Regions from separate parts of the Homo sapiens genome. Here region 1 is linked to region 2. The links come from fine-mapping of genetic effects on gene expression. A gene starts in region 2. The other region holds a variant in brackets. All regions are shown on one strand. Distances are from middle to middle.

The links. PIP is the estimated chance that this variant, and not a neighbour inherited with it, causes the effect.
Region 1: its variant is the best candidate, but not a certain one, in a credible set for the expression of KRT32 in unexposed skin (GTEx, PIP 0.72).

What each region holds. Positions count from the first base shown.
Region 1 is chr17:41,391,865-41,397,244 of GRCh38, reverse strand. It overlaps KRT31 (keratin 31), which reads left to right. Exons shown (of 7, transcript NM_002277.3): 1 at 1-53; 2 at 250-332; 3 at 669-825; 4 at 1,622-1,783; 5 at 1,875-2,000; 6 at 2,177-2,397; 7 at 3,076-3,524. The coding sequence ends at 3,229. Among named protein-coding and RNA genes, the nearest start is that of KRT31, 3.1 kb to the left of the region's middle. RefSeq lists enhancers at 2,711-3,210, 3,211-3,712. The variant G/A (reference allele first, on the strand shown) is at 2,398.
Region 2 is chr17:41,464,739-41,470,118 of GRCh38, reverse strand. It overlaps KRT32 (keratin 32), which reads left to right and starts at 2,733. Exons shown (of 7, transcript NM_002278.3): 1 at 2,733-3,261; 2 at 3,943-4,025; 3 at 4,190-4,346. The coding sequence starts at 2,794. It also overlaps the pseudogene RNU2-32P.

The DNA of each region.
Region 1 (5,380 bases), 73 kb after region 2:
TGTGCCCCAGTTACCAGTCCTATTTTAAGACCATTGAGGAGCTCCAGCAGAAGGTGAGCGGCATTGCTGTCATCTCCAAGCAAGAGAGTTTGCTGTGATTCTGTCTGTGATAGAGAAGTGTGTTTCTTGCTTCTGTGCTGTCATAATTCTTGCTTCCTCTTTTATTTCAAAATGGCTTAAGTCATTTTTAAAAAGTTGATGATTTCATATTTATTTTCAGTCCTCACTAAGCCACCTCTCACTCCCCAGATCCTGTGTACCAAGTCTGAGAATGCCAGGCTTGTGGTGCAGATCGACAACGCCAAGCTGGCTGCGGATGATTTCAGAACCAAGTGAGTTGTTCGGAATTTGCACTAGTGTCAATTGCTTCTGTTTAATCTTTAAAGAAAAGGGATTTCCATCTGAAAACAGATCTACCCACTTGTTGTGAAGGATTCTGCAGAGGACTGGGGAGAACCAAGCAAAGAAATGCAAAAATGGATGAGGACTCACATCAATCTGTTTGTTTTGGGATGAATATTGGGTATTGATGGAGCCTCCAGAAACCTCTGTCTCCTGGGCCTATTCATTACAGAAAGTGGAAAGATAAGGCACATGAGGTTATCAAAAATCATTCCTGTGAGTCTTGAAGATCTACCAGGTAGTACTCTGACCCTGTCCTTGCGCAGGTACCAGACCGAGCTGTCCCTGCGGCAGCTGGTGGAGTCGGACATCAACGGTCTGCGCAGGATCCTGGATGAGCTGACCCTGTGCAAGTCCGACCTGGAGGCCCAGGTGGAGTCCCTGAAGGAGGAGCTGCTCTGCCTCAAGAGCAACCATGAGCAGGTGAGACTAGAAATGAGAAATGCACAAACCTGTCTCAGCCTCTGGCTCAGGGTTGCTTTAGTGATTTGGGGCAGCAGAATGCAGAGTATGAGTACAAGACTGAGGGTTTCCTTTGAAAACATCACGGTAAGAGAAAAATTGGAGAGAGATAAGACCTGTTCATGTTCCCAGACAGGAAACATCTTTCACTTTAAACTAGCACATTATTTGAGTTGCCCGGAGCAGCTCCATGTGCTTGCAGTTGATCAATAGTTGTAGAATGAGTCCTAGCATTGCAGTGTTATTGCTTTGTAAAGTCTTTTTTTTTTTTTTTTGGCAAAGGCCAAGAAAAAAAATATCAAACCTTATAAATGTGAGTCTCTACTCTTTCAAAGTATTGGTGAAGAGTGTTTGTGAGATTCTTCCTCTCTCTTGGGAGGGGCCATGACATGCTCTTACCTCTTACTTGACAGCAAGAGTTTTTTGATATATGGTCTGAAATTGCACAGCCTATTTTTTTTGGCATTCTGAGGTCCTCACAGCCAATTGTAAACTGGGAAAGTTGAATATCAATTAGTTCATCCTTCAGTGGCATCCAAGCAAACTTTTGGGATTTTTTTCTGAAGCCAAGTGCCATGGCACAGCAGATGGTGGGGAGGGGGCTATGCCACATGGAGTGCCTTGAGCTGTCACAAACTGCTCCACTCAAAGTTTCTTTTCCGAGAAAATAGACTAACAGGGTTTCAACAAGCAATGCCATTCCTTAGAGTTCATTCTTTGCTGAGCATAGTAACTCTTGTATTTTCTGCATCCATAGGAGGTCAATACCCTGCGCTGCCAGCTTGGAGACCGCCTCAATGTGGAGGTGGATGCTGCTCCCACTGTGGACCTGAATCGGGTGCTGAACGAGACCAGGAGTCAGTATGAGGCCCTGGTGGAAACCAACCGCAGGGAAGTGGAGCAATGGTTCACCACGCAGGTGGGCATCTAAGCACGTGGCCCCTCAGGACCCAAGGCCCCCCAGGGCCCCGGAGGCAGGGTCTGATCCTTTCTCCCCTTGGGTGTTTCAGACCGAGGAGCTGAACAAGCAGGTGGTATCCAGCTCAGAGCAGCTGCAGTCCTACCAGGCGGAGATCATCGAGCTGAGACGCACAGTCAACGCCCTGGAGATCGAGCTGCAGGCCCAGCACAACCTGGTGTGTATTGTTCAGACCTGCTGGTGAGCGACGGGAACTTGGGAGGCAGAGTCCCGGGGATGTGCTTGGGGCCACACACTCTCCTTAGCTCTTGGAGCTTGTGACTTCCTTGTAATCCTGTGAAGAAACCCTTTGAAGGAGCAGCTCTCTGACATTCCCAATCTTCTCCACCACAGCGAGACTCTCTGGAAAACACGCTGACAGAGAGTGAGGCCCGCTACAGCTCCCAGCTGTCCCAGGTGCAGAGCCTGATCACCAACGTGGAGTCCCAGCTGGCGGAGATCCGCAGTGACCTGGAGCGGCAGAACCAGGAGTACCAGGTGCTGCTGGATGTGCGTGCCCGGCTGGAGTGTGAGATCAACACATACCGGAGCCTGCTGGAGAGCGAGGACTGCAA[G/A]TGAGTACATGGGCAGACGTGTTTGATGAAATGATGCACGTGTGAGTGTAACAGTTAGACACCATGCAAATATTGCATACCTTGGAAAGGAAATTATGCCTTCACACTAGACATGCTCAAACAGAACTCAGACAACATAATATGGCCATCATTTAAAACATAAATGGTTTGGTAGCAAGAGTTGTTTGATGTACAAACTGAAATTGCACTGCCAAGTCTTTGCATTCTAGTATGATAATATGCATGACTGCATGATATGTGATCAATGCCTTACTTTTTACAATACTGTATTGCCTAGTGGGTACATTCCCATAGGCTACCTGATTTGATCTTATAATTACCACCAGGTGGGCTGGATCAGTATTCCCTCCATTCTACAGGAAAGTAAACTGGGGCTTGGAGAAGGTAAATGACTCACCCCATGTCATCAGTTTGGCATGAATGGATTTGAGAGTAGACATCAGAGTTTCAGAGTTTCTGTCTACCTTGGTGCTCTATGGCAGGGAGACCATTAACAATTTGAGTTAGTTATCTTTGTAGCAGGGGAGTCTGTGCCTTTTCTGTTCTAGGCCAGGTCAAGTCCCTTGACCCAGGCATTCTTACCCTTGGGGATATCTCTGGCATATGATTTTAAAATTGCCCTTAACTCACTTTTCCACATCATTCTTTTGTCTCCAGTCTGCCCAGCAATCCCTGTGCCACGACCAACGCGTGCAGCAAGCCCATCGGACCCTGTCTCTCCAATCCCTGTACCTCTTGTGTCCCTCCTGCCCCCTGCACACCCTGTGCCCCACGCCCCCGCTGTGGGCCCTGCAATTCCTTCGTGCGCTAGAACCTAGGGAATGCCAGAGGAGCAAGGATGCAGGGCCCAGGACTCCAGAGCTGTGACCTGGCTCTGGTTCAACAAAAGGGGCCTGAAAACATCATTTGCATGGCTGGAGTTGCCCGCGTAAGGCAGCCAAGAAACTCACCCAAAGCCTGTAGCCTCCCCAACTACTCCAGACTGTCCTGCTCACCCTTTCCTTCCTGGGGGTCTGTTCCTTCCTATGCTCACCCAGAGAACTCTCTGATGTGCCAGTGGGCCTCCCTTTTAACCTCCTAATAAATATCATTTCCTTGGCAAAGCAGATGCCTTTTTCATTTGTATTCATTTGTTTCAACGTGCTCATCACCTGAGTACGCTATAAAAAGCCACTTGAAAGACAGGCCATATAATGGCCTGACTCTTGGATACCAGAGCAGTTTCATGCCTCAGGGGAAGATGGTGAATCTGGTGCCCTGGACCCAGGAGCGAGGCAGGCAGGCCAGTGGGAAGGAGGGTGGAGGTGCTGAGTGCTGCAGTCCCTATCTCCCCTTAGCTATTCTTGGATTTCCCTTCTAACTTGGACATCTCCCAGAGCTGCTTGTATCCTATTCTGAATGGAGGAGGCATGAGCTGCGGGCTGGAAAGAAGCTCTGGAAAACTCATGTTCTTTCAGCAGGAGTTTCAGGTTCAGTGCTGTATTATTCTGGGTTATTGGTGGTCCAGGCATTTCCCAGCGAAGAAACCCTCTGACCTGCCCTGCTATACCCAGGAATTCCTCCTTTCCCTTGTGTGGGTTGATCATTATCAGCCTGGGCTTCCAGCTTCTGTCCTCCCTCCTCGACTCCAGGTCTTAGAGACCCCGTCAACTCTTTATTTGATCCTTTGGCCTTTCTCAATTCAATCCAACCAGTACCTGTTGAATACCTACTCTGTGCAGACGCTGGGTGGTGGGATGGGTAGAGACACATGAAGAAACACACAGTTCCTGACTGCAACTTACTGATAATTTGTTAAAAAACTAGTCCCCAAGTAGTGCTCTTATAAGGCCCAGTCCCCTGGCACTGTGAACAGCTGGTGGGTGCTAGAAGGAACTCTGAGTACCGAAAGGGACAATGCTGGTACCCAATGGCATTGGTGTTTATCAAGAAAGGGCATCTTTCTTTGACTCTCATGAAGACCCATGGAAGTGTTTAAGCATAGACCTCCCGAAAACATAGAGGGCCATTTTGATCTGAAGGGATCAGAGGTCTCTGACTTTTCCCACCACACCAGGCTTTCCCAGCGGGTATCAGACTCCACCTGGGTGAAACATAGTCCTGTGTCCTAAAATGATCAAGTGAATCGGAATTTTATATGTATATATATATATATATAAATATATATAAAAAATATATTTTTGTTTGTTTTCATAAAGCGATGATTCTCTCCACCATAATTTCTCCCTTGATTCTTCTTTTTAAAACTCAAGTTCCAGGATGGATTTGGATTTGTGCTTTGCTGCTTGGCTTGTGAGAAACCTCTGACCTGGAACTCTGTCTCTACTATGATTCACCCTGTGTCTGTGATTTCCTCCAAACCCAAGGTCAAGCTCAGTCCAGAGGCTCTCTCTCATGTTGCTTGTTTCTTTATTCCACATCCTGCTTATGTATATTATTTTACAATAATACAAAAGTACTGCTAATAGCTCCTGTGGTAGACAGAATAATTGTCCCCTCCATCCCTCATCAAAATGTTCATGTTCTAATTCCTGGAACCTGGGAATATGTTAGATTACATAAAAAAGGAAATCGAAGTTGCAGATGGAATTAAAGTTGCTAATCAGCTGACTTTACGATAGGGAGATTATCTCGGATTATCAGGTGGACTCAGGGTTCTTAAAAGTGGAAGAGGGAGGCAGAAGAGTGAGAAGGTGATGAAACTATGGACCCAGGTCAGAGTGATGTGATGTGAGAAGAACCTGCCTTGTCCTTGCAGGATTTGAAGATGGAGGAAGTGGGTCATGAGCCAAAGAATGCAGGTCATCTCTAGATCTTGGAAAAAGCAAGGATTCTCCTCTAGACCCTTTAAAGAGAAACGTAACCTTGCCAGACCTCTGATTTTATTTTTATTGTGGTAAAATATGTACAACATAAAATTTACCATTTTAGCCATTTTTAATGTACAATTCAGGGGCATTAA
Region 2 (5,380 bases):
TTCTCATTGTTCAACTCCCACTTATGAGTGAGAACATGTGGTGTTCGGTTTTCTGTTCCTGTGTTGGTTTGCTAAGAATGATGGTTTCCAGCTTCATCCATGTCCCTGCAAAAGACACGAACTCATTCTTTTTTATGGCTGCATAGTATTTCATGGTATATATGTGCCACATTTTCTTTATCCAGTCTGTCATTGATGGGCATTTGGGTTGGTTCCAAGTCTTTGCTATTGTAAATAGTGCTGCAATAAACATACTTGTGCATGTGTCTTTATAGTAGAAAGATTTATAATCCTTTGGGTATATACCCAGTAATGGGATTGCTGGGTCAAATGGTATTTCTGGTTTTAGATCATTGAGGAATCACCATGCTGTCTTCCACAATGGTTGAACTAATTTACACTCCCACCAACAGTGTAAAAGCTTTCCCATTTCTCCACAGCCTTGCCAGCATCTGTTGTTACCAGACTTGTTAATGATCACCATTCTAACTGGCATGAGATGGTATCTCATTGTGGTTTTGATTTGCATTTCTCTAATGACCAGTGATGATGAGCTTTTTTTCATATGTTTCTTGGCCACATAAATGTCTTCTTTTGAGAAGTGCCTGTTCATATCCTTTGCCCACTTTTTGATGGGGTTGTTTGTTATTTTCTTGTAAATTTGTTTAAGCTCCTTGTAGATTCTGGATATTAGACCTTTGTCAGATGGGTAGATTGCAAAAATTTTCTCCAATTCTATAGGTTGCCTGCTGACTCTGATAACAGTTTCTTTTGCTGTGCAGAAGCTCTTTAGTTGAATTAGATCCCATTTGTCAACTTTGGCTTTTGTTGCAATTGCTTTTGCTGTTTTAGTCATGAAGTCTTTGCCCATGCCTATGTCCTGAATGGTATTGCCTAGACTTTCTTCTAGGGTGAAAACTCACATTTCTAACATGTTCCTGAGTCAGGTTGATGCTGAGAGTGACTGATAACACCTTATTATAATAATTATAGTTTTTGGGTGAGAGGATTAAATGGGCAAATTAATGCCAAGCACTCAGCACCATGCCTGGTATTTGTATACATTCCACAAGTGCTGGCTATGATTCTGAAGGGTGGCCTGATGAGTCTCATCCCTTGTAGTTGGTATTGCCATCACACCTCCTTCCATCTGATGCTATAATCTTCTCTAAATAGGTAATCCAGACAAGGTACTGGAATTTGTAGTTGTTGCAGAGAATCAAATTGTGAGAGTATTTGATCTGACCCCCTCGATTGGCATGAAGAAACTGAGGTCTGGAGAGACAAAATTACTTTCCCAAGGCCAAATGGCAAGTCAGAGGCAGTATATCTACGCTCTCCTTTTCTTATGCAATGAATGAGCTGGGTGGCATTTTCCCTTTCCTGTTCTTGTACTGACATTTCTGGGAATATGTGAAACATAAGGCAAGTACTTATACCCCAAAATTATATCAAGAAGATTACTGAATAAAAAAGTGGCTATATAGCACACACATACTAAATGTGAAGCTCACAGCTTTTGCAGCCAGGACTGAAAACCACTGCTCTAGCATGTTGCCTTCTTAAGTGAATGCCCAGGGCTTCTATAGTTGGGCAAATATGCTCCCTGTCTCCTGGCTTAGCTCATTCCAGGGCTATAGAACATCCTTTCCCAAGGGAGTGGATTCACACTGCTTCCATAGTCTGAGATCCTGAAGTGAGCCTTCCCCATCTGCCACAACAGAAAGTAAAAGTAGAACCTGTTCCAACTATTCTCAGTCTGTTCAACAAACAATTATTGAGCACTTGACAATTGTGTATATGGTGCAGTGATAATTGAATGGATGGTCCAGAGGGGGTCAAGACAGAGCAGCTGCCACCTGGAGATGTTCATGATATGGACTTTTCCAAGAGGAAGAGACCAACTGGAAAGATGTACCTGATTCTTAGGCTTCTGTTTGGGTCTTTTTTTTTTTTTTTTTTTTGCCTTTTGAAGGGGTGCAGCATTCCTGGAGGTACTGCAATACCAGGTCAACATGTAGAGTGAACAGAGCAAGCTCTTATTCCATCTCCCTGCTCCCAAAATCCATTTAATATGTTGTCCTCAGATGGAGGACGTATCAGATATTAAGACGATAAGAACAGATACCACACTTGATCTTAGCCAAAAGGCTGAGAAGTGATGCTGCCTATGTCTTGAGTTCATTCTCTCCCCACTGATATTATTTTCTTCCCCTTGGCAGGAAGATGATGTCTGTTAGGAAGCCTCTGAGGTTCCTGTTCCTTTCTGCTGGATTTATGCCGCTGCCAGCATCGGAGCAGTTTCTACCACCCACACATTTCCTTGTTAAATAGCCAGGCCTCTTCCCATGGGGAATGCTTTCATTAAAAGAGGCAGCCACTGCTGCACAGACCTGCAGGCTTCTCAGGGCTAGAGCAGGCGGGGGTGCAGTGGGCAAAGCCAGTGGAGGCACAGGCTGGGTTGTGGCAGTCTCCTGGAGGGCCTGCCCTAGTAATGAGGGCCCAGGCATGCGGCTGACCCTTTGAAGATGTGTCCTGAAGCTCTCTCATGGTGATCAATGACAGGAACCCAGACTCCTGCTTTAGCCAAATGATAAGTTTGGCCTCTTTTATTGGAAACCAAATTACAAATTAATTAGCAGCTTCCTCTGGGGCTGGGTGTGAACATCAACACCACCCAATGATGAATTTCTATCATGAGCCCCCTCACTGCAAGGGCATAAAATGGCCCGGGCGGCATGGGGTCTGTAGACATCCAGGTAGCTGTGGCTGAGGAGAAAGGGCCTCTCCAACATGACATCCTCCTGCTGTGTCACCAACAACTTGCAAGCCTCTCTCAAGAGCTGCCCCCGGCCTGCCTCGGTCTGTTCCAGCGGCGTGAACTGCCGGCCTGAGCTGTGCCTGGGCTATGTCTGCCAGCCCATGGCATGCCTGCCTTCGGTCTGCCTGCCCACCACCTTCCGGCCAGCCAGCTGCCTCTCCAAAACCTATCTATCCAGTTCCTGCCAGGCAGCCAGTGGCATCTCCGGCTCCATGGGCCCCGGCAGCTGGTACAGCGAAGGGGCCTTCAATGGCAATGAGAAGGAAACCATGCAGTTCCTTAACGACCGCCTGGCCAGCTACCTGACGAGGGTGCGGCAGCTGGAGCAGGAGAATGCGGAGCTGGAGAGCAGGATCCAAGAGGCCTCTCACTCCCAGGTGCTCACCATGACTCCTGACTACCAGTCTCATTTCAGGACCATTGAGGAGCTCCAGCAGAAGGTGAGGGCAGCGGTGAGGTGAATAGGCTCTCTGGGAAGGGAACTGGACTAGCTGGCATTCCAGATTGGAATCTCGTTAGCTTATTAAGCTATGTTCAGGACAAAGAGACTTCCCTAGGGCATAGGGTTATTTTATAATTTGAGCACTCAGCCTGAGGCTTTCATGTGGAGAGATCTGGGATCTAGTCTCAGTTCTACCATTGCCTCATTGCATGACTTTGGGGGTCCCATCCCTTCCCCAGGCCTCAGTTTTCTCATCTGTAAAACAGGGATAATAATGGTCGTTATCTAATGGGGTTGTCAAAAGGATTTGATGAGATGATGCAGGTCAAGTGCTTGGAACAGCCCCTGGTCCACGGTAAGTTTTCAGTAAATGTCAAAGACCCTTCTAACTGTCACATGAGTGACTTCAGACATGAGATTCTTCCCTTCCACATTGCTTGGCACATCCAAAATGGGGAATTTGAATTTACGAAGCTTCAGGTTCTTAAAAAATACATCTCAAGTTCTCCAAGGACTAGCAATTCGCTAAATATCTCCCAGAGTTCCAGGGAAGAGGACCTTCTGCAGGGATGGCTGCAGGGCTGCTGGATCCTACCTTTGCTGCTGTCTTCTCTTCATTTGGGTTCTTCTTGCTTCGTCTCATCCTGAACTAACCCTCTCCATGTGCCTTGGCCTACAGATTCTGTGTACCAAGGCAGAGAATGCCAGGATGGTTGTGAACATTGATAATGCCAAACTGGCTGCCGATGACTTCAGGGCCAAGTGAGTTCAGTCGGGGGGCTGGAGCTGGGGAGGACCTGTCCTCATAGGCTCTGGGGCAACTTTCCATTAGTTTCACGGAGGGTTGGAAAGTGCCGGCAGTTTAAGGCCTTCCCTGAGTTCTGCATTCTGTTTCACCCTTGGTTGCTGACCCTGTCCTTGTGCAGGTACGAGGCAGAGCTGGCCATGCGGCAGCTGGTGGAGGCCGACATCAATGGCCTGCGCAGGATCCTGGATGATCTCACTCTGTGCAAGGCTGACCTGGAGGCCCAGGTTGAGTCCCTGAAGGAGGAGCTGATGTGCCTCAAAAAGAACCATGAGGAGGTGAGGCTGGAAGTCCCGCTGAAGTGGCCCCGGGAAGCAGAGGGGGAGGAACGTGGGGTATGGGGTTGGATAGGCGTGGGTTGAAATTCCCAAGCCTGCCACATGTTGTTTTAGTGACTTTGCCCAATTTATGGAATCTTCCTGAGCCTCCTCTTCTGTAAAATGGGGACAACATGATCACGCAGGGTTATTGTGAGGATTTAATGGACAGGATATGGATCATGGAAATCCCCAAGGCATGGGTATGAAACACCTGCCACTTGGTCAACTCTCAGAAGTGTAGCCCCCTTCCCTTCTGCATTTCCTGGGCTAGTGTGACTGCCAAGCACTCACTAGTGGCAACTGCATTTTTTTCTCTCGAGAGCCACACAGCAGAGGTAGAGTGGTGCAGTGGTGCCGGGGTGAGTTATGTTCCAGATCTCACGTTGAATGGCCTGTCCATCTCTGCCTGGCTCAACTCTCAGAAGCAGTCCCATCTCTTCTGAGAGGGAGTACAGCTGCAGTGGTCTCCTCTTTTTGCCCCTATCCTTATTTTGTCCTCCCTTCTGTTTGCATATAAAATGCTCAAGCTGAAGCCCTTTACTTTCTGATTTTTCCTTATCTCCTGAAGTTTCTTGGAGGGGAAGCCCTCTGCTTTGGGCACCTGTGTGCTGCCAAGCCCACCTGAGCCATGGTGTTTTTCCCCCCTCCCTGGTTGACTCTCAACCTCTTGACTTGGGATTTGAATGAACAAGTGCCTCTGAATCTTGGCTGGGTTTCCTCAGGCTTAAGTGTAAAGTAACAATCAGTCACCACGTACTCACCGAGCACCCTCGGGCTCCTGACTCATCTTGCTCAAATCAGAGAACTGGGAACGGCACCAAGAAGCCACTAATGAGAAGTTATCACACATCCTGGCAGACTCAGTGACAACTTTCCCTCTTTGGCAGCCAAGCCTGGGAGGCAGCTGCCCTAACTCGGGCCTTTAACTAGTCAAGCCAGGCTCCTGCTACCCTCCTCCCAGGATGAACACAGGTGGGGAGGGAGACTGGGAA